Regions from separate parts of the Homo sapiens genome. Here all the other regions are linked to region 1. The links come from fine-mapping of genetic effects on gene expression. A gene starts in region 1. Each other region holds a variant in brackets. All regions are shown on one strand. Distances are between the middles of the regions.

Region 1 (8,190 bases):
CTTCTATTGATTTTACAGCCAAATAAAAGCAGCTCAGTCCAACACACCCAAGGTGCTTGGGCTGTACCTAAAAAATCAAAAACAAAACCAGTAAGCCCATGACTCTACCTTATTTCAATTAAAACATAAAGGATAATCTAGAACTCCGACCCAACATTTTGAAAATGTATATTTGAGGTTTATTTCTCAGCTGTGATGGACTTAACACAATCCACTCATACCTAAACTATAGCCTGTCAACACTATGGACCCCACTTAGAACCAATTTTTGAGTAACTGGACTGAGTTTCAGTATAATGTTTGGCTCAGCATAGAAAAAGTGTGTTTTTATTAATCACTGTAGAACTATAAGTAAACATTGTTCTAGTTTGATCAAATAAGTTAACTAGTCAAAGATATATGAGGACTGAAATACTTTATGGCTTATTTACAAAATAAGCCATTTCTTTGCAGGATGTTGTATTTTTTCCAGGCTCTTGTCTTTGTGGGAACACATATAAAACAGTTTTAAAATACTATGGCATATACTGTTTACTCTGCCTCTAAGAGTTCTATCCACTACTAATCTTTATCATTTAATTTTCTGAATGTCTGCCGTATGAGACACAGTCAAAACTTTATCCAGTTTACTTCCAGCTCACATGAAACTAAGCTTTTACCAGTATTAATATCTCTGTGCTCTCTCTCTTCTTGTAAACTCTTCAGCAGTACACTTATGCCTCTTTAAAGGCATAATGTAGTTATTTTTCTTATTATGACTTGTACATAAGAGCAACGATCTTATTCTCACATAAGACTGAATTATACCTGAGGAATAGCTGTATATTATTCATTTGTGCAACATTTACAGATTCAAAGGTAATGACTACATGTGAAATGTCTAAAGAGCTTAATTAGTCTGTTGAAGCAAATTTCTTGAATCTTCAACAAATATTGAAGTCCTTTTTTATGATGCACTGTGTTAGATACCGAGGACTAAAATATGAGTTTCCTTCCAATTGTCACATCATCTTATTTTCCTCCAGTGACCATGGGTGTACAGGAAAGGCAGATGCATTTGTAACAGTTAAGCTCTGAAAGTGACAGTCTTGTTTATCTAGTATAGGAAAATAGTTGCTCCTCCTTCAGACACACTCTCCTCCCTACTGCATGTACACTGAAGCTGGAAATGCCAAGCATAAGCAAGTCTTGACTAGGTCTAAGGCTAAAACATTTACAATTTTATATATGGGTAGTGATTAACAAATATATCTTAATTCTTAGCCACAATGTAGCCTCTAATAAATTTCTGCCACTAATAAATTTGTTTATATCTAAAAATAGTAAATAAATGGACAAATCCAACCTATCAAGAAGGGTTTTTTAAAAACAGCCAATTTTCTTACTAGGAAACTGCAATTTGTTACTTGATATTAGACTATTTTTCATTTCAGAATTTAAGTCTAATACCTGATGTACTACTCTTGATTATGATAAGAAATATTAATGCTGTAGTAGACAAAATTAATGTTTTGGCTACGTGCTGAAAAAAAAAAGGTCAAGTTTATGAATACCAGCCAAAAGGTAACAATTCCATCTCCAAAACACACTGAGCAAAATTACAAAAATGTAGCTTCAAACATACCTTCATTTTAGACAGGAATCTGTCCAGTAAATTCACAGCTAGAGAAAATGTCTCTGTGTCAAAGCCAAAGAACTGAGTTAGACTAAGAAGATCTTTTACTTCAAAGTCCCTTAGTCTTGCAGTCATTCTGAGGCCATTATCGTGTGCAGACTCAATTAGTCTCAAACCACAGACCTTTGGCTGACATCTAGACTCCTGTTCCAACAGGGCATTCAGCTGGTGTAGCAGTTTCTGAGAGTCAGTTGTTGTCAGTACCTCTATCATCTATATATAGAAAAAAAGACCAGCAAGGAGTGTAAGAGTAGTCCTTCCTGCTTTCCTTGGCCATCTTTGCACTGGGCCAAGAAATGATTTATAAGCCTCCCATCCCCCAATGCGGCTAGTGCATCTAAGTCATTGCAAAGTGCCATCTGTTATTTATTTCCCTTCTACAAGTTGGTCACATCCTAAATTGAGTTCCTAGAGGGAAGGAACCATGCTTTTTTTTTTTTTTTTTGAGAAGGAGTCTCGCTCTGTTGCCAGGCTGGAGTACAGTGGCACGATCTTGGCTCACTGCAACCTCCGACTCCCTGGTTCAAGCGATTCTCCTGCCTCAGCCTCCCGAGGAGCTGGGATTACAGGCATGCGCCACCGCGCCCAGCTAATTTTTATATTTTTAGTAGAGACGGGGTTTCACCATGTTGGCCAGGATGGTCTCGGTCTCCTGGCCTTGTGATCTGCCCGCCTCGGCCTTCCAAAGTGCCGGGATTACAGGCGTGAGCCACCGCGCCCGGTCGGAACCATGCTTTTTAGAAAAATAAAATGCAAATCTTCAAGAAATACTTGTTCAAGTTATTCACTGTCAATAGATAACCACGAATAAACACCGTAAGACAGGATACCGAAAGTGAAAAGCAGATGGTAGTTAAGTATTCTGCCACATATTAACAAAATGAACTGTTCAAGTTACTTAATTGTACTTAGTTCCACATTGATAAAGTAGGGATAAGGTTTATGACCTACCTCACAGATTTGTGAGTTAAAATGAAATCACGTAAAGAGCTTAGCACATACAGTAGACGCTTAAAAAACACTGAACAATAATAATGAGCTTGAGCTTCTTTCTAGATTTATAAAATGAGGGTAACAATATCTGTCGCTGAATGTGAAGACTGAACAAGATGATTCACCACTTAAAGAGTATAGCACAGTGCTTGGCACACAATACTCAATATTACTTAACTTTTATTGTTGTTAGGAAAGGAAACTTAAAAGGTGACATTAGGAGCACGTATTGGGGCGGGGGGGTGCGGTGGGTTGTTGCTAACCTAGTCTGAAAGATGAACCTGGGAATTCCATTGATTTAAGTGTGCATAACACAACCATGTCCCGGGCACAAGCTAAGCCCTGGATACATGGAAGGTCCCTCCCACACCAACTAAAGACAGGAAGGCAGGAGGTCTTCAGAGCTAGTCATGTGAGGAACCTCTAACTGCAGGGGTTCCATTCTTCCTCCCCAGGCTAGTCCCTGGGACTGGGTCGGCAGACACGAAAGGCACCTCAGGAGGCCGGATCCGGCTCCGCCCCTCCAGCCTCGGACTAGCCTGGGCTTGTGCTCACAACAGCGGTAGAGTTTAGTGTGGAAAAGGGCGCGGGCCAGACCTACTCCTCGCCCCGCGCCCCCAACCCAGCTCCCCACCCGCACCTGGCGGTCAACTCCCGCGCAGTCCCACTCACCTTGACAGAGACTGCAGCTCCTCAGCGGTAACCACCCTCCCCGGGCCTGCTCACCTCACCCCACGATATCAGATCCGAGAGGCCTACGAGGAGAGGGGACTCGTAGGCAAGAGGAGAGAGGCCCGGGGAGGGGGACTGTCCTGGGTGGAGGCCTCGGCAGCGCCGCCGAGACAACTCGGCCCTGATCAGGGTCAGCTCGGAGCCGAAGGGGCCGCGCCTGCCCTAACGAGGAATATATTGGAGGGCGGGGCTTTCTCGCGAGAAGGGGGCATTTTCGCCGCTGATTGGTGTAATTCTTTTGATGGATGGCCTCCGCGATCCGTAAACGGCTGGGCCGTGGAGTGAGAAGTCCGGCCAATCGGCTCACACTTCCCGTTATCTGGCCTCAAATTCCCCGGCCCCCTTCCACGCCCCTACCTCTAAGCGTCTCTCATTGGAGAATTTAACAAAGTGTCTTCATTCAGTAGGGGGCCAAACTAAATACTCGGTGCAGCAACCCTCGCCTGGGTCAGGTCAATCGGCTGCCAGCCGGATTGGCCGGCGTATCATTCCAGAATGTACTGTTTGTTCTGTGGGGTTTAGGAGTTCTACAGTGGTTCTGCCCCATCTTTCTAAAAATACAGTGAGTAGTTAAAAAAAAAAAAGTCAACCTTTGATTTTTAATTACAGATAAAGAGGTGGTGGAATTTATATGGTTTGGTGGTTTATCAACTTCCAGAGTGCTCTCTTCGTGAACTTTGGAAGTCAGTTGATTCTTGCCTTAGTTTGCTTTTTATACAATTTATCAAATAATGGAGTTGGACTGTGTAATTTCTTGACCCTCTACCAATTTTCTGAATTTGCTTTTAAAGCAAATTTAAAGAGAAAAGTTGGTACAATTTTTCAGTTGCTTAAAATGAAAGGTATGTGGCAGACTGTTAACAGGAATAATTGTGGTGAGTGTGAATCTCAGTCTACAGACCCGAGTGTAAAGCAGTATTACTCTTTGTATTTACCATAATGAATTTAATCTCTGTGAGCCTCTCCTATGCCAGATTAGTGGGAAAATAATTAGCCTGAACTCTTCTTAGACTCTCCTCACTCTCACTCTCCCAGATCATCACAAGTGAGAAAAGTCCATTTGTAAAAGGGCCTGAAAAAGGGTGCACAAGGAGTCATTTCTAAACTCTTATGAATTACACAGTAGTTGGATGTCTCTGTTCTCATGGCCCCAGTTCGGTCTCTCTTACTTTGAAAAAGTGAAAATCTGAAAGATTTGCCGTCACTCTGCTATTTGCCCTGCCGTGTACTTACCCAAGGCAATGCCACAGAACAAAACTCTGGAAAGGGGGAAAAGGGGTGGGGAGGAAGGGGAAGGAAAAACAGGAGAAAACATCAATACCTCACAATAATACCTTAGCCACATAATCAGGTCAGTTTAAGAAACTGGGGCTCAAATGGGGAAGAGGCCTTTGTTCCTTTTGAAAATAAAAGCTTACCTAGTGAATATAAATTGGCAATTTATAACCTTTAACAAGTGATTTTATTTAAAAATACTTTTTGCTGTAATGTGTGAGTTTATAAATGTAGTTTCTCCTTTTGGCTTTTAGTTCCTATTATTCCTAATTCCTAAAATTAGGAATGTATATGCACAATTTTTAAAAAAAATGGCTAAAAAATCATAAAATCTTTATGGCAGGCTGGGCGCGGTGGCCCACACCTATAATCCCAGCACTTTGGGAGGCAGAGGCGGGTGGATTACCTGAGGTCAGGAGTTTGAGACCAACCTGGCCAACATGGTGAAACCCCGTCTCTACTGAAAATACAAAAATTAGCTGGGCATGGTGGCACGTGCCTGTAATCCCAGCTACTCGGGAGGCTGAGGCAGGAGAATCGCTTGAACCTGGGAGGTAGAGGTTGCAGTGAGCCGAGATGGTGCCACTGCACTCCAGCCTGGGCAACAGAGCAAGACTTGGTCTAAAAAAAAAAAAATTCTTTATAGCAATCAAAAGCACGAATAAATTAACTAATATTTATTGAACACATAGCATAGGCCAGTGGAGAACAAATTAGACTGGTACCCGTCCTTGTAGAACATGTAACCTGTGGGCAATATAAACACATAGACTTTAGAATAAAATAAACTTATATTCATATCCAGGAATAGCTCATAACTTGTTATGTGACTTTCAGCAAGTTATTTAATCACATTTTCTTTTCTCAACAATGAGAAGTAAAAAATACATTATTCATGGGGTTATGAAGAGGATTAAATAATAGAAAGTGCATAAAGAGGTAGTCACTATTCCCAGATCACAGTAGATTTCTTGATAAATGGTAGCCCTTAGTATTAAATTACTATTTCTTTTTAAATATCTTGCTTAAACACACTTTGATGTGTTTTCTCTGTTATCAGACTAGTCTTCTGTTTTCAGCCTAGAAGGATAATCAGAGTATTAGAACTGTTTATTTAACACAGATAAAAATATCTAAATTGCATGTATTAATTTCTATACGTTTTTATACTTGAAATTTTCACTTGAGGGCTTTTAGGTAATATATCATTGTTTATATAATACAGTATTTTCTCGTACATTAGAATATTTTTACTTTTTATTAAAATCTCTCACATAAAAATATTTCACTAGTACTGGAGAGACATTAATTAAATATAAATCAAGTCAAATTGAAATTCTTTACTTTTCTTCCTCCCTTAACCCCCTCTGCCATTTTCATTTCAAAATGTTAGAATATAGACCATCATTTAAATAATTGAAAAGACCTAATTAGCAAAATGTGGAAATGTAATACTCAGTTATCCACTCTTGTAAAATAAAGATAATGAGCCCTTCGTTAACTATGATTTTATTTTTAAAGAAGTGTGGATTTAATCATGAATTCCTATTGAAAATTTGTTAAATGACTGACTTCTGGGGGTATATTCTAGGCTCAATGATGTATTCAATTCCTATCCTCATACCTTCTTCTCCATTAACAGTTAAGTACAACAAGAACTAATGGTCAGAATAATGGCCTTGAGGCTGGGCAAGAATCCAGGCAGTAACGGGAAGATGTAATCATATTCTCCGCATGGTAGGCTGTAGACATGCCTTTCAACAACAAAGATTATAACAAGCAGGTATAAAACAGTGGTGGTGTGTCAAATACTGCCCTGACTCACAGGGAAATTCCCGGTTGGCTTTGTTTGTTTCCATCTTGGAGATGTGGGAGTCTGTGCCTTCCCTCCTGCACACAATGTCCAATCACCTTACCCTCTTTTCAGGCTCCCTAATAAATGTCTGGTACTTTTGTGTGTAGCCTTGTCCAACTATGATAAGGGCCAAGGAAGTGAGGGTCAAAAAGATCTCAGCTGAGTTCCCTTCTGCTTTCTGATCCTTCCTGTAACTGTGCATTACAGCCTCCTCCACTTCTCTAGCTGTTCTCTAGTGCATCTAGTCTATCTTATTCATTTGAAGTTAACTTGCTTGTCAGTGGCTCCTTTAATTCTTTATTAGTTTATGGGACACCAGTGAAATTAAGTATGGTTGGGAGGAGAAAGACAGAGAAGGATACATAAAAAACATAGATTAACAATTCCATGAATATCCTTCTACTCAGAGGTTCTAGCTACCACTTCTATACTCAGATAAAGTAACCCCTTCCAATTAATTGAGGTTTTACTATATATTTCATGAAAAACTAAATTTTTGACTCATCAAGTAACCACTGCTATATAAAGGCACTGGGTCACATTAGAGGGGGATCCTCTGTTCTCTAATGGCTTTAGACTCTGTTGAGTACAAAGCTTAAAGCCAAGACCAGCCAAAAACGTACTATATAGGGTTTGCATTTATTATATGTTTCCCATGTGCCAGGTCATCGTGCTGAACTTAAACACACCTGCCTTTGACAACTCTGATATTTTTATTCTCTTCAGAAATGTGGGATATTTTATATATCTCATGTTTAGTAACTGTTTACTATTTACTAAATATACTTCACACAAAACTTGAATTTGGATTTTTCTGCAGTTTTTTAAAAAGTTTCTATTTCAGAACATTTAAGTCTCATTACCCAGCTTCAATAATCAACATTTTGCCCATGTTGACTGTTTACTTTGTTTGTCTATCAACAAGTATTTCTTGAGAACTTTGTAAGTGCCAGACCATTGTATTTTGTAATCCCAGATAAAAAATGCTGCTACAGCTTTTGAGCCACAGGATGTGTTGGCTGCTGTTCTCTGTGAACGTAAGACGTCAGAAGGATCAGCTGGGTCATTGTCCTCCAGTCAGAAGCCAACACTGCAGGTGTCTCTGTTGTCTCCTGCTTTGGAAGGAGAAGGAATGGGAAGGCAAGAACAATTTCCTTTCTTATCCAGGTTTCTGCCTAGGTTGCTAACCTTCCTCCCCCAAAAGCAAACACACACACACACCCAAACACACACACACACACACACACACACACACACACCCCATGTACACAAAACGTTTTGGCGGAGTTGAGAATTGGACTTAAGGCCTTCCTTGTTTCACGTTACTACCTTCCTTATCTTTCTAGCCTTTTAACTCTTTTATCCCCCTCTCTGATTTTGCCAACCCTTTTCTCTTTTCTCTCCCCAAACCTCAGTTTTCTAATAATTAGTACATCCCAAGGTTGTTTTTCACTGCCTGTACTGTTGGTAGGGTCAGAGCCTCTTCGTGGCTTTCAGGTTCTATGGCTGGTAGAGGGCAGTGAGGAGCCCTCCCTTGGCATTCCAAGGGTTGGTGGGTGAGTGTGGAGGAAAAACACCCAAGTTAGGGTAATGTATTCCACATTACAGTTTGTCTTCAAATCAAACAAAACAAAGCAAAACAAATAAAAAACTTTCCAGA
Region 2 (8,190 bases), 57 kb after region 1:
TGGTCGTAAACTTCTGGCCTCAAGCAGTCTTCCTGCCCTGGCTTCCCAAAGTGTTGAGATTACAGGCATGAGTCACTGCGCCTGGCCTGTTTGGTTTTATTTTTAATCGGCCCTATAATATTTTCATCCTGATTCTGATTTACAGCACTGTTCCTTTATCGTTAGTAGGAACTGTCATTCCTTCATAACTAGTGATTCTGTTGGGACTGTAGATTATATTAACTCAGTTTTTGGGCACTGGCCAATAATATTACCCTATCAGCTGGTAACAATGATTGGTCTAAGGGAGGGGACATGGACAAGTTAGCCAGTCAGAGGCTTTCCCTGGGATTTTACATACTAATAAGGAGGGATTGGGGGAAAGAAACTTTCTTCCTTCCTTCCTTCCTTCCTTCCTCCCTTCCTTCCTTCCTTCCTTCCTTCCTTCCTTCTCCCTCTCCTCCCTCCCTCCCTCCTTTCTGTCCATCCTTCCTCCCTCCCTCCCTCCCTCCCTCCCTTCCTTCCTTCCCTCCTTCCTTCCTTTCTTTTCTTTTCTTTCTTTCTGTTTTTAGATGGAGTCTCACTCTTGTCGCCCAGGCTGGAGTGCAGTGGTGTGATCTCAGCTCACTGCAACCTCCACCTCCCGGGTTCAAGTGATTCTCCAGCCTCAGCCTCCCAAGTAGCTGGGACTACAGGCACATGCCACTGCATCTAGCTAATTTCTGTATTTTCAGTAGAGACGGGATTTCGCCATGTTGGCCAAGCTTGTCTTGAACTCCTGACCTAGGGTGATCTGCCCAATTCGGCCTCCCAAAGTACTGGAATTACAGGCGTGAGCCACTGCACCTGGCGAAACTTTCACTTTTCTTTTCTTCTTCTTCTTTTTTTTTTTTTTTGAGACGGAGTTTTGCTCTTATTGCCCAGGCTGGAGTGCAGTGGTGCGATCTCGGCTCACTGCAACCTTTGCCTCCTGGGTTCAAGCAATTCTCCTGTCTTAGCCTCCTGAGTAGCTGGGACTACAGGTGCCCACCACCACACCCGGCTAATTTTTGTATTTTTTAGTAGAGATGGGGTTTCACTATATTGATCAGGCTGGTCCCGAACTCCTGACCTCAAGTGATCCTCCCGCCTTGGCCTCCGAAAGTGTTGGGATTATAGGCGTGAGCCACCACGCCCAGCCTGTTTATCCTTTAAGACCAGCTGAGATACCACTATCTTTGTGAACTCTTCTCTAATTTGTTTAGTTAACAATGGGTCTCCACCTGTGTCCTATATAGCCCTGTGTCTTAATGACATCTATTCCATTCTGCCTTCTATTGTGTGTTCCAGTGTTGTGTAATAATTCACCCAAAATTAATGGGTTAAGACAAGTACTATTTTATTATCTCATCATCTTCTTGGTTAAAGGTTTGAATAGAACTTAGCTGGGGGCTTGCTCCTCTTCGCCTGTTGTTTGATGGTCACTCAATGGTATTTAGCTGGTCTGATCTAGAAGGTCCAAGACAGCTTCACTCACCTGCCTTGCTCCTTGGGAGGGTTGCTGTTGCTGGTGTATCCTCTCTGTCCTTTTGGGTTTTGTTCTCTTTCCTTTTGGGTTCATGCCTTAAACAATTTCTATCCTGTTATTTTAGCAAGGTTTCTGGAGGGAGCATGTGTTCAATCTAGTATTTTTACCCGGAAGTCCCCAAAACCTAGTTTATAAAGTACTTTCATATTTAGTTTCTATTTTCTCTTTACAAGAGCCTGGTGAGTATTACGCCTCCATCTTTTAAGACAGAAAAGCTGAAACAGACACGTGTTTTGGCAGTCAAGCCTTTTGATTGCAAGGAAAAAAACTCACTCAAGCCAGTGAACGTATATGTGATATTCTAATTTAAAAAAGTATTCTCATCAGCCCCCAGGCTCACGCTTGTGGTCTTTGAGGGTTGCTGTGGGTGCACCATCTAGATTTTCCTGGTTTTTGGAGTCCAGGTGTTCATTGGGATTCTCAGATAAAATACAAGATTCCCAATTTTATTTGCATTTCAGACATATAACTAATAATTTTTTAGTAAAGATATGTTTCAGCTATTTAATGGAATACTGTACTTGTACTAAAAATCATTGTTTACCTGAAATTCAAATTTAATTGGGCCTCCAGAATATTTATTTGCCAAAGGTAACCGTAGTCTACTTAGGTCAATAAAGGGTTCATGAGTATGAGGAATGATTGAGTTTTATGAGAATAGTTAAGAAAACACCCTTTGGCCTTAGCGACGGACTATTTCTAAACCTGGAATCATTCTTCAGCAAAATCCTAAAGAAAGGGGAATGTTGTTCCCTGTTTTTTTTTTGTTGTTGTTAAAAAAAAAAACCCTTTTTACCTTTCCCTTTATGTCTCACCACATGTAAGCTGATTTAATTTTCAAGCTATCTTTCAGCAACATGTCATTGTCATATACTCAAAATAATAGATGTCATTTTTTGAGATCTTACTTCATGCCAGGCATATTGCTAAATGCTTTAGATGTATTATCTCATCTAATTCTCATATGAACAGTAGGTATCAGTAGCACAATCTTATTTTACAGGTGCATGGGGGGAAGATGCAGTTGATAAAGCTTAAATGAGTTGCCTAAGGCTGGTTACTAAGTGATTGAGGGGACAGTGGAACAGTAGTGCTCTAGTTTTTTCCTGAAAGCAGAGTTTTGTTGAAAAAGAAAGGCTGTGAAATTAGTTCATTGCATTTTTTTAATTATACTTTAAGTTTTAGGGTACATGTGCACAACGTGCAGGTTAGTTACATATGTATACATGTGCCATGTTGGTGTGCTGCACCCAGTAACTCGTCATTTAACATTAGGTATATCTCCTAATGCTATCGCTTCCCACTCCCCCCACCACACAACAGGCCCCAGTGTGTGATGTTCCCCTTCCTGTGTCCATGTGTTCTCATTGTTCAATTCCCACCTATGAGTGAGAACATGCGGTGTTTGGTTTTTTGTCCTTGAGATAGTTTACTATTGCAAACTGGAATGATGGTTTCCAGCTTCATCCACGTCCCTACAAAGGACATGAACTCATCATTTTTTATGGCTGCATAGTATTCCATGGTATATATGTGCCACATTTTCTTAATCCAGTCTATCATTGTTGGACATTTGGGTTGGTTCCAAGTCTTTGCTATTGTGAATAGTGCCTCAATAAACATACATGTGCATGTGTCTTTATAGCAGCATGATTTATAATCCTTTGGGTATATACACAGTAATGGGATTGCTGGATCAAATGGTATTTCTAGTTCTAGATCCCTGAGGAATTGCCACACTGACTTCCACAATGGTTGAACTAGTTTACAGTCCCACCAACAGTGTAAAAGTGTTCCTGTTTCTCCACATCCTCTCCAGCACCTGTTGTTTCCTGACTTTTTAATGATTGCCATTCTAACTGGTGTGAGATGTTATCTCATTGTGGTTTTGATTCGTATTTCTCTGATGGCCAGTGATGATGAGCATTTTTTCATGTGTCTTTTGGGTGCATAAATGTCTTCTTTTGAGAAGTGTCTGTTCATATCCTTCACCCACTTGTTGATGGGGTTGTTTGTTTTTTTCTTGTAAATTTGTTTGAGTTCATTGTAGATTCTGGATATTAGCCCTTTGTCAGATGAGTAGATTGCCAAAATTTTCTCCCATTCTGTAGGTTGCCTGTTTATTCTGATGGTAGTTTCTTTTGCTGTGCAGAAGCTCTTTAGTTTAATTAGATCCCATTTGTCAATTTTGGCTTTGGTTGCCATTGCTTTTGGTGTTTTAGACATGAAGTCCTTGCCCATGCCTATGTCCTGATGGATGGGGTCTTGCTCTGTCACCAAGGCTGGAGAGCAATGGCGTGGTCTTGGCTCACTTCAATCCTTGCCTCCCGGGTTCAAGTGATCCTCCTGCCTCAGCCTCCCGAGTAGCTGAGATTATAGGCACGTGCCACCATGCCCAGCGAATTTTTGTATTTTTAGTAGGGAAGGGGTTTCACCATGTTGGCCAGGCTGGTCTCGAACTCCTGACCTCAGGTGATCCCCCTGCCTCGGCCTCCCAAAGTGCTGGGATTATAGGCATGAGCCACCATGCCCGGTCAGTTCATTGCTTTTTTGTGTGTGTGAATAATTTGGTAAATTTTCTTTTTCCACGGCCTTTGGGATTTTATGTGGTTTTGGCCACAGAAGGAGTCCAGGTCTCCGAGTCTCTTGTCGTTTGTGCCTTCATGGCACCATGTGAACTCTCCTTTTCTTTTTGTTGCTCATTTTTGTAGGCCTGCTGGACAAATTCAAATTCCAAAACAGAAGATAGCCAACAAACCCAGAAGATATTGACTCTTTATATTCATGCTTTCACAGAACAATGATGAGTGGTACTATTCTGCAGGATAAAATTGGAAAGAACTCAGTA[C/A]ATTCATTGTTCAAAGCAATTGATTCACCCTTGAGAAAGCAGGCCGGTAGTTGAAGTGTGTTTACACAGTGACTCAGCTTCTGCTCAGAATTGGGTAACAGGTCTTTATTATCTTTACTTTCTTTCTTAGAAAAAAAAATTGACTAAGTTTTTACAGTGGGATGATTGCAGCATTTGGAGGTCTGCATAAAAATTTCAAATATTGTTGTTCAGCATTTTTGAAGAGCCCCATTATGATTTAGTCCCCATTTCAGTTCTTTCTCACCACAAGAAAAAAGATGCAGTTTTCTTTTCTTACTTAAATCTATCAATGAGGTAACTCTCTGAGTCGTGTGTGTGTGTGTTGTGTGTGGGTGCTGTTGTGTATGTGTGTTGTGTGTGTTTATACCAATAAATTCAAAAGATACTAATAGGGCCTACTGAAGGTAATATTTTGCTAGCCACATTTCTTTCCCCAAATCCTTTTTTTAAATTTAATTTTATTTTATTTTAAACTCTGGGGTACATACACATGACGTGCAAGTTTGTTACATAGGTAAACGTGTGCCACAGAGGTTTGCTGCACCTATCAACCGATCACCTAGGTATTAAGCCCAGCATGCATTAGCTATTTTTCCTGATGCTCTCCCTCCCATTGTACCCCGTGACAGGCCCCAGTATGTGTTGTTCACCTGCCTGTGTCCCTGGGGTCTTTCCCCAAATTTTAACAAATAGCTTTTCTACAGTTTGAAGCTGTGATTGAAAATGGGGGAATAGAAGAAGCTAGGAAGTCTTTAAACAAAGGACATTAAAGTGTGTCCAAATGAGTGGGAAACTGGGCCTCTTTATAATAGGCATGCTATGTCTTTTTGTGTTGAATAAACACAGCTATTCTGAATGCATCTCTGCTTTCAGAGACACACTGCAAAAATGCTAAGGATAGCTCAGCCTCTGGTACTAATCCCTTTTGTGACTTTGAGCAATTCCTGTAGCATCACTAGATTTTAAGTTTTCTCATTTCCAAAGAAGACAGGTTAGTTCAATGTTTCCTGACTTCAGTTATGTGCATAGCTTTCATTTTTTGGTCATATCCCATTATTATAGATGTGGCATAATATTTGTTTATTTCTAATATTTTTTATTAGAAATAAATTATATATATAGAATATTATATACGTATAGAAATATATATATAAATATATATAGAAATATATATAGAAATTATATATAGAGAATATTAGAATATTATTCTAATATTTCTAATATTTTTTTAAAAGGCTCTCTCTCTCTTTCCTTTTAACTGAGGTAAGTATATGAGGAATGCATGTCAGTGGTGAAGGCAATGGCCAGGAGAGAATAAGGTGCAGCCTGTGGAGAGGCCAGGGCAGAGGATGCGGTTCTCAGGCTGGGGGTTCAGGAAAATAGAGGGAAAGAGTTTGTAGGAACGGGGGAGAGGCAGACAGAGCTGGGCTTTCTGGCACTTCTTTTGAAAAAGAGTTTGGGCCCAGGGATGGAAGGGATGAAATCTAGAGAGTGGGAGGATCTGAGAATAAAGAGGGTGCTAAACTGAAGGGTTGCCAGGAGGGACTTAGGGAAGAGGAATCTAGGAAGCCGGGCTGGCGCCTGCTCCCTGGGAAAACAGTGCTTTCCCTTAGCCTCCTCTTTTCCTAAACACCAACCTGCTGGCACATCTGGCCACAGCCCTGTGCCTTCTTTCTGCCCGCGGTGTCTCTGAGCTATCACGTGCTACAGCCCCTCCTTAGGGAAGGCTGTGGCATGGGAATCTCGGCCCAGGAGGAGATCTGAGAAGGTGAAGGGTAGAGGAGTTTAAGAGGGACCCAGAGGTGAGAACTCAGGTTTTTGGAATCAGTTTCAACTCTAAAGAATGCCTCCAGTTCTACTATTCTATTTCTCCACAAACTGTTGCCAGTTACTGAAGGGGAAAAAGTTTGTTAATGAGAAAGGCCAACCTGTAGGTTCCTTGTTTCATGCCCTTTGTTTTATAGAATTTCAAATCAGTAGGTGGGAAAAAAGACTTGCATATCTTTATTTTTGGCAGTTTTCTTTATCACAATTGTTTTAAGTAACCTAGTTCTCTTTTCATTGTGCTCTTACTTTCAAGTGACTAGAAATCAGGTTATAGAATTAAAGAATGACTCAAATGGAATTTGAGGTTTGGGATAGAACGTGCTCAAGTCTTGGAATTAGAAGGCATGGATATCAGTTTTGGGGCTACCACTTGCTGACCTGGTCAAGCTATTGGATGTCTCCAAATCCAATGTATAATCATCATAAAAAATAACAATATTGATAATAATACCAAATTATTGTAAAAGGAGAAAGAAAAGATTAAGATGTCTATGACGATATTTCGTTAAGAGGAAGGCACTTGCAGAAAGCTTTCTTTTGTGCTAGGCATTGAAGTGGTTATTAATTAGGTCTCCAAGAGCAAAACAGAATTTTGGTGTTTATTGTATTTGTGCGATCAATGCCTACTATCACACTGTGGATTTGAATTACAAATCTTGTTTGGTAATCTTTCCCTAAGAAATGAATTCAAAGATTGTCAAATATCTACTCACTTCATACTTTTTATTATTAAGAAATTCTGGCATCTAAGTCTTCTAATATTCCACTAATATTCAAATAACCTACTGCTATAGGCACTACTAGTGAATTAACAAATATCTGTTGAGTGTTGCCTCTTGGTAGAACATTTTGATTAAATGGAGCATGCGTTTGCTTGAAGTGAGGGGCACTGCACACCCCCATGCAGCACAGCCCTAGGAACATCATTTCTAGGTGCCGAATGCCATGATGTTGCTTGAAGATAGGCAATGTGGTGGCCTGCTGGAGGTTGAAGTATATATTTTTTTGGTTGAGCAATTAAAGTATACAAAAATTTCAAGCTGTGTCCCAAAGGTCTTTTGAAAGCGATAATGATAGCTTGTATTGGGAAGTTTATTTCAAGGAAAGTTTACACATTTAAATGCAGGATTATCTAGTAGGAATTTTATATGCTGATATGAAATTCATGAAGGAATTCAAAAGCAATGCTTTGTTTCAAATTCATCAGACCTCTAATTTCTTCAACACAATAAATAGTTTTACCTTGAAAAGGCTTAAACAAAAGGCAATTGCCTAAACTTTCTCAAAATTCTAAATCCGAATGTGATTATGTTCTTCCTAAGTTGGAGCAAGAAAACAGAGATACTTCTAAAAAGTTAAAAACTTCAGTATCAAATTCTACTCTCTTCCAGATCTGACATCTTTTATTATGTACAATTATTGACAGGTTAGTTCATTATTTGCAATTAAGCGGGAAAAGTACTCATATTGAGTAATGGAGTCAGATAATTGCAATTTTATTTTTTAAGGTAATTAGTCATTACACAAATATTTTAGGTTTAAATCTATTTCGAGTTGAGGTTAATTACATCTGCCATGTCCCAATACAAATATTTAATTACTTTAGTGAGTGCAAGTTATATTTCCTCCCATGTTAAAAAACAGTGACTTCTAGTTTTATAATCAGCTTAAGTAAAAAAGGACAACACCAGATACTAACAATAGCTGTGCATTATAAAAATAGTTTAAGAATAAAATTATGCCAGTGGTATTTTAGCAATTGAATTAAGTAAAATTATCAAAGAAAGGGTATAGAAACATTACTCTTAAGGAGTGATTTGTTTGACTACATTGGAAAAGTTCCTAGGAACTGATGAAGTATAGAATGGAATTGTGGAATAAAAGGGTGGCAAGGAATGAAAAACAAAACAAACAAACAAAAAAACTGCATTAGTTTGTTTGCTGTTAA
Region 3 (8,190 bases), 210 kb after region 1:
AGGTTTTCCTGTTCATAGGGCTGAGGCTAGCTCCACTCTCCAAGGGGTTAGAAGTATCTGGTCCATGGATATGAATTTAACATAATGCATCATCAGACAAAGGAATCCACTTTACAGCAAACAGTGTAACTTTGAGCACATAGCTATGATATCCACTGTTCTATCTTGTACCACACCATCCAGAAAATACTGGCCTGCCAGAGTGACAGAGTGATAAATGAGCAGCTTAGTAAGGGCACAGAACATTCTATATGTTCTTAATCAATAACCATTATAATGTGCTGTATCCCTAATAAATATTCCAGACTACATAAGTCTGGGAACCAAAGAAGTGGTAGAAGGAATTGACCAGTTTCGCATCACTTTCAATGATTCCATTACAGAATTTGTCTTTCTTATCCCTACAACTTTGGGCTGTATGGGTCTAGAGATTATGACTCCCAGAGGGAGAGTGCTTTCACCAGGAGACGCAGAAAGGATCCTATTAAATTTTATGGCTGAGGTTTTAAACACATTAGAATCTTTGTGCCAAGAAGTCAGAAGGCAAGTAAAGGAGGCACGTAGTAGTGAAAATTGACCCTCATCATCAGAAGAGGGTAGGACTGTTGTCCTCCAGTGAACACCAGAGGATCCACTAGGTGTTTCTTGGTACACCTCCACCCACTTGTGATCATCAATCGACAAGTGCAGTAACTGTAGTATAAAAAAGCTGTGGTAGGCAGGGGCTTACATCCTGGGGCTTAGACTGGCAGAGGTGCTGAGTGTGGGGGAAATCTAGAATTAGTAACAGAGGAAAGAGATGATGAATATCAGTTGAGACACTGAGAAGAGCTGCAGTGGTGGAGGGATTGTCATTTATCTCACTAACCTTTCACTTGTGTGTGTCCCCAGGAAGAGAATGACCAAATCCTGGAGGAAGTATTCCCAGATGAGGTGGACTTAATTACTACTGATGGATATGGGTGGAACAAGGGGTAGACCCAAGAATGTGGTGGAGTGCTGCCCAGAACACTCACATCAGTATCAAGGCACTCATTCCACCAGCTTCTGGAAGCGTTAACTGCTGAGAGGGCACAGCTGAGACCCTCCCACAGAATGCCCTCGGCAGGAGGCCTTTGCCTCACCCAAGTTTACATTTGCTCTTCAGGAGTAACCTACATCCAATTACAAAGCAAGAATGTAAGGGCCTGTTCCCCTTGCCTCAATTCAGGGCAATGTAGAAGACTAGACTATTAGAAGAGTAGGCTAGTTTCAGAGATCTCCAAGGGATTGGCTGCGGCCAACTTTTTCAGAGTTCAACTTTTCCCACTGCTCACTTATTCTTCTTTCACTCTGTTACAAATGTTGATACTGAAATCACTTCCTAATGAACTTCATGCCTGCAAATTTCCATTTCAGAGTCTGTTCTCCAGGAAACTTAATCAATAGCACCTTTCCTTACCCTTATTTAATTTTATGCCACAAAACAAATTATCAGCCTTCAGTCAATATAAAATTGTACTTGGAGTATTAATATCAGATCTATAAGAAATTGTCATAAATGACTTGTTTTAGTGATCCAGAATTTATTAAGCTTTCTCTGGTAAGGGTATACTAATTTTCCTCTGGGATCCACTCCTTTTTCCCTTATTTTGTGTGCTTTGCATGACATTGACTTATTCCCAGCTCAAAAGATTGACTTGAGATTTAGGCCTAACCATTCAAAGTATCACTTTTTTCCTGAACTCTTCCAAAGTTCAGAAATAAATATGTCACTCAATAAGAGCCAATAAGGCACAACAAAACTTATGTGAGCAGCTAAGGAAAAAGATATGTGGACTTTGCCTTCTGGATTTGAACATGCAAGCCTGTGGTCTGGAACTGCTGGTAACCATTTTGCACTCTGGGAGAGTGGAACCAGTAGATGAAGGGAGTCTTCGTCTTTATGTCATTATTAAACTCCTGGATCAAGACATACCTGAAGCAAACATATTCTTGGAGTTTCAGTTGTATGATTTCAATAAGTTCCTTTTTAAAAATAAGCTATTTGTGCCGAATTTCCTGAAAGTCTCGTTGCTGAGGCAGTATCTTACTGAACTAAGTCATGGACGTGAAAAATTAAATTACTAAAAGTGCTTTGGATGGAGAAAGCAATTACATGAAGAGAACTCTGATCTGAAAAGTGTAAGGTGCCATTTTGAGCACTTCTAGGAGTTCTAAGGAAAGTTTAGGTCGATATTTTCCCTTATCTTACAATATGTTCCATTCTTGTTACCATGATAATTACTGTAATCATATCAGCATGGTCTAAAAAGGTCCTGCAGTTAATAGTGGAGAAAACAGGAACACTTTGTTATATTTTGCCTAATTGTTAAATATGGTATTTGCAAATCTAGAATCTTCTTCAGGATAGAGAAAAATGCCCCATTTATGGCATAATTGCACTGGCTAAGAACAGTCTATTTTAATATCTCTGAATCTCTATTTCCTAATGTGTACAACGGGGAAAATTCTTCCTGCCTAACACGAAAGTTGTAAAGATAAAATGAAATGATGTACACATAGGTACTCTGTATATTATACATGACTAAGTAATTGTCTGTGGCTATTGTTGGTGGGTATCCAGCAATAAATAAATAAATGATGCAATCCTAAATCTTCTAATTTGTTCATAGCTAAAACATAATATGGTATTTGCATAGATACCTAATTTTTTAACTTCTTAAGGAAAACAATAAATTGAAATATATAGGACAGTTATTAAGGAGTCATTGCCTATTTGTTTATTTATTTCAATTTGGCTTATTTGCAGTCAGATGGATAAGAGCCTTAGTTCTTAAAGAGATTAATCCTTAGAGTCTAGGAGCAAACATTATCCAGACTTCCTTTCTGGGACTCCTTCTTATTGTTTTTAAAACTTTTGAGAGTACCCTTAAGCACTGAATTTATGTCAGGATATTGAAAATGTCTGCCTATACAGAAATTTCTTCCACTAAACTGAGAACTCCTTGAGGCTAGAGGCTATCCGTATTTCAATATTCTCTCAATGCCAGGCAACTCACACTGATTTACACACTGCTAGTATTAAGTCTGTTTGTTCACGATTTAAATGTGTTGAATTTAAATTAAGGACATTCATTTTGTAGTTTTTATAACTCTCCTAACATATCTATTGTTTTTTGCTTTAGCTCTATTTTTGCTACCTGATTAATTTATAGTAGAGGATTAATCTAGAAGAAGAAGTTTTGATTATTAGATCAAACTTCCAGGGCTGTTCCTGGACCAGATGAGAAAGACAGATATTAAATTCCTTAGCAGTTATTTAAAATACTTCTTTTTGTTTTTTTGGAGACAGATAAAATCTCTCTTTATTGCCCAGGCTGGAGTGCAGTGGTGTAATCATGGCTTGCTGCAGCGTTGGCTTCCCAGGCTATAGCGTTCCTCCTGCCTCAGCCTCCCCAGTAGCTACAGGCATGCACCAACCTGCCTGGATAAAATTTTATTTTTTTGTACAGATGGAGTCTCTCTATGTTACCCAGGCTGGTCTTGAACTCCTGGTCTCAAGCAATCCTCCCGCCTCAGCCTCCTAAAATG[T/C]TGAGATGACGGGCAACGGCCACCATGTTTGGTGATTTAAAATACTTGTTCACAACAGTAATGTGTGTTTGATGGGAAATTTAAATATGTGGAATAGTAGAGTGTAAAAATTACTAATAGCATTGGGAATCTAGCATATATATATAATATTTATATATACAACATGAATGTCCTCAATTTAAATTAAACAAATTTAAATCATGAACAAACAGACTTAATACTATCAGTGTTTAAATCAGTGTGAGTTGCCTGGTATTGAGAGAATATTAAAATACTTATAGCCTCTGGCCTCAAGGAGTTCTCAGTTTAGTGGAAGCAATTTATGTATAGCATATACATATTATATATTATAATATAGCATATATATATGCTATAGATATAGCATTGGGAATGCCATGCGCGCACACACACACACACACACACACACACACACACACACAGAGACAGAGGGAGAGAGAGAAAGAGCAAGATATATGCCAGACAGATGATAGTGATTCTCTTTGGAGAAGGGAAGGGATTGAGAGAAGGTCATAAAAGGGGAGTTAATAATTTTTACATTCTACTATTTAACATATTTAAATCATTCATGTGGATAGGGTGTGTAAATCATTCATGTGGATAGGGTGCATTTGTACACACATGTGCACACACATGATTCCCAATGCTATATATACATATATGTATATAAATAAATAATATCATACTCTGAAGATTGTTTTGGAACTTGCTTTATTTTTTTCTTTTCTTTTTCAATTAGTGATATATCTGGGATGACTATCCAAACCAGCATATAGAAATTGTTTTGTGATGTAAAATGGTTGCATTGCATCTGTAGCATAGCATAATCATGATTAATATACATATTTTCCTATTGGTAAAATTTTTGTTTCATTTTAATTACAAAAAGAAATAATAATATTTTAGAATGTTTATCTTTGAACAGGTCAGAATCCTGTAGCGTAGATTCATAGAAGTGGAATTCTGAGTAAAAAGACATGCACATATAGAATAGATGCCAAATTACCCTCTAAAAAGGCTGCACCAATTTCTACTTCCACAGTTTTGGTCTCCATACCCTTGTCAAATATAGACATTTATTACTTATTTTTACTTTTTACTGACCGATGTGTAAAAAATCATATTTTATTGTTACTTTATTTGCATTTCCCTAATTACCAATGAAATTTTCTTGAACATCCAATTCTTCATTCTCTGGAAACCCATATACTCCAGTTTTTCTACTTAGATTTGAATCATTATTTTAGAAATTCATGTATTAGTAAATCACATTATTTTTCCAGCAAGGGATGATAAGAGCAGTGACTCTTAATCCTTTTAAATCTTTGAATTATTTGACTCTCTGACTTACTGAAAAGCCAAAAGATATTCCCAATTACTTTCTCCGTTTCCAAGCCAATTCCTGTCTTCTAGGTATCCTACTCACTGGGGCTCTGATGGGTAGGTATGCTGCATTTAAAGCAGGATAGTTCTTTCTTCTGGAAGACTTTGAGAATTAGATGTAATAGTAAGAATAAATCATATGTACTGTTGTTTAATGAGTTTCTTTTGAATTTAAACACTTAACCAGGTTTTTTGCATTTAATCCTTTCATCAGCCTTATGAAGAAGTTATTACTTATACTCATTTTACACGTAAACTAAAACTCAGAAAATTAAATTGTTGTCCCAAGTTTCATAGCTAGTAGGTGTCTGACTCTAGAGCTGTGACGATTCTGTGGTATCTTTATAGCCTTGTCCTAGTCTGTCTCTAATTCACACTCCATAGGCTTTTTTTTACATATAAAACTTTAGTAGGAAATAAAACAGAGATTACAAAACAATACCGTTTCCTTTTTTATGCAAATACTTCAATATTCCAGTATTTTTACTCACTTGCTAAATAAAACACACAACTGGAAACACTAAATAACTCTGTTAGTCTAAATCTTTTAAAGAATAAAATGTTGGGTAAAAACCCAAAATTGACTAGTGAGATATGTATGACCTTGTTTATTATCTATCATAGGCAACAAGATGATCCTTGAGACAGAGAGTAGAGCATTTACAGGCCTTGTCAGGAAAATGTGACTAAATCCTAGGTCCTTCAACCCCGTAGCTATCAGCTTTCATTTACTGGTGTTCTGTGAGGAAATTAAGCCATGATCAGGCTATTCTTTTCTCAGTTTTCCCGAGGATGGTATGCTAGTAATATTCTATATACACAGGAGATAGGTTAATTCATTAAATATGATGGATGTCTTGGGCCATCAGGGCTTAATGCTCTCCTGGAATCCTTGTTGAGAAGTGCTGATAGACTGTCATCTTTCATGAGTCTCTGTCACTTGAGTACTGTTAATTGTTTAAACTTTAAAAACAGACACACATGAAAAATGACTCTTAGTGCCCATGAGATAACATTTCTGTGACTTTTTGATACCTGAATGTCACTCAAGTAACAAGTCCACATAGTAATAAACTTGTTCTACAAAGTACCTGACTATTGATAATTTCAGTGGCAAATCTGTTAAAAAGGCTTATTTTTACTTTCATCTTCCCACTACTCAAAATGTACGATTTCTAAGAAATGTCCTGGGGCCACAACCATGCTATGTTCTTCCAGAATTTTCTTTTTTTTAATACTTGGCCTTAATTTTATTTATAATCTATGGAGTTTTTTTTTTCTTCCAGAATTTTTGTCAAAGATTTTGTACTTAACAGTCTCAGGGTAAAGGCTCAGGTTAAGGAAATTGCCCAATGTTCGTTCATAGCTGGTTAGTGACAACGTCTAGATTTCTATTTAAGTCTATCGACTTCAAAGCTCTTTGGACTAAAGTATTGTTTTTCCTAGGTAGCCAAAAAGATTGAAATAAATGCAAATGCCTATGGCTTATAAGGTAGTTATCTTACAACTACCTTCATGATTTGAAAAACAGCCACTCAAAAATGATAGTAACAGTAACAGTGACATCTAAAAACACCTGGTGAAAACACCAGGAGGTAATATGCTGTAGTGAAAAACAAGTAAGTCATTTTTGATGTCATGAAAATGCAGACTAGATGTAATTTAGATGAACACTCAGTGAACACAGAGGCTTGCACTTCTTTACCTTTAATGAGAGGAGACACGCTTATTGAGAGATACAAAGTTTCTGTGAGAGATGCCTCCTCTTGAAGTAGGTTAGATAAGGTGGTCATAGTGTCTCTTAAAGGGGAGCAAACCTGCCAAATAAATGGAGATAACAATCCACTCTGCAGTGTATGAACTGCATTCTGGGCTCATGGTTGAACACTTTGCAGCAAGGAGGTAAAAGAGCAGAAGGGAAAATCCCCAAATTCATGCAACTGCAGAAACCCATGATTAGTGTCTTTGGGCTGACTTATTATGCTCATTATAATAGTAAAAGACACCCTTGGGTAGAGAATTAAGAGGCTTATGAGACATGGGATGTATGTACTAGCATGTACAGCAAGATCTTTGTAATCCCCTAAACTTGTTAAATAAGATCAATCTGTTACTAATACCATAAAACTTGCCCCAATACCCTGTAACTCAGGCTCTTAAGAATTCTGGAGAGACAAAGGTAAAGCTAGAGATCGGACTCACTCCTACAACCTTGAAAGACATTTTGAATTTGATGATAACATGAGATCAAACTGGCACCTGATAACTCAAAGAAGAAAGGTTTTATGAAGAGTTTATAGAAGCCCAGGTGCGGTGGCTCACACCTGTAATAATCTCAGTACTTTGGGAGGCGCAGTGGACAGATTGCTTGAGGTCCAAAGTTCAAGCCAAGCCTGTCTAATATGGTGAAACCCTGTCTCTACTAAAAATACAAAAATTAGTTGGACTGTGGTGGCTCGCGCCTGTAATATAGCTACTTGGGGGACTGAGGAAGGAGAATCGCTTGAACCCAGGAGATGGAGGTTGCAGTGAGCTGGGATCCCGCCACTGCACTCCAGCCTGGGCAACAGAGACAGACTCTGTCTCAAAAAAAAAAAAAAAAAAAAAAGAGTTTATAGATGAGCTCCTGCCCATTATGACAATATTTTTCTGTCTCCCAATTTTTTTCTCATTCTTACTGCAGTTTCCATAACAACCCATATCCCATAAGCAACTGAAGTTACTAATGAGGAGACAGTTTTCACTAGCTTTTTGATGTTTGGGAACCGTTTTCTCATTGACACTCTGTGATTTTCAGGGAACCTTTGCTCTTATTGACACTCTATGATCTACAACCCTGCCAATTAGGTTGTAGTTTCCAAGCATTCTAGACACCCCAGTGCCTACTATAATAACATTTTAAGTTTTGTGGTTGTTACACCAGTATCAATAAATTTTAAAAAATATAATTTTCTTTGAATGCATGTAGGGTATAAGAAAAACATATTTTCTTCAGTGTTAGCCAGTCTTCAGAAAGAAGAAAAAGACTTACTCGTCTTAATAAAAACAAAGGTAAAGTGTTATTGTGATTGTGGGAAAAGGATTTTTGTAGCACTTGATGTGGGAAAAGAATGATTTCAAAAACTTCACAGTTTATCAGTCTCTTGATTATGACTGAAGGGAAAATACATAGTGTGCATATTTAATTTTTCTGCCCTTAGAAACTGTTTTTTATGA

Alleles and levels. Positions count from the first base shown, and alleles are read on the strand shown. Sizes are in standard deviations (SD) of each study's normalised expression. Not every link is listed here.
For the expression in spinal cord of the gene that starts at base 3,550 in region 1, allele A in region 2 goes with a lower level than allele C (small effect, 0.35 SD a copy in GTEx).

Evidence for each region. PIP is the estimated chance that this variant, and not a neighbour inherited with it, causes the effect.
Region 2: its variant is the best candidate, but not a certain one, in a credible set for the expression of CCNG1 in spinal cord (GTEx, PIP 0.55).
Region 3: its variant is the best candidate, but not a certain one, in a credible set for the expression of CCNG1 in whole blood (INTERVAL, PIP 0.89).

What each region holds. Positions count from the first base shown.
Region 1 is chr5:163,432,955-163,441,144 of GRCh38, reverse strand. CCNG1 (cyclin G1) reads right to left here and starts at 3,550. Exons shown (of 7, transcript NM_004060.4): 1 at 3,341-3,550; 2 at 1,625-1,888; 3 at 1-67. The coding sequence starts at 1,888. It also overlaps a transcript of LOC105377700 not described here. RefSeq lists enhancers at 2,986-3,185, 2,877-3,454, 3,896-3,945 and a silencer at 3,626-3,705.
Region 2 is chr5:163,376,024-163,384,213 of GRCh38, reverse strand. All of the region lies in intron 1 of LOC105377700 (a long non-coding RNA gene), which reads left to right. Among named protein-coding and RNA genes, the nearest start is that of CCNG1, 57 kb to the left of the region's middle. The variant C/A (reference allele first, on the strand shown) is at 4,395.
Region 3 is chr5:163,222,773-163,230,962 of GRCh38, reverse strand. All of the region lies in intron 2 of LOC105377700 (a long non-coding RNA gene), which reads left to right. Among named protein-coding and RNA genes, the nearest start is that of CCNG1, 210 kb to the left of the region's middle. The variant T/C (reference allele first, on the strand shown) is at 3,574.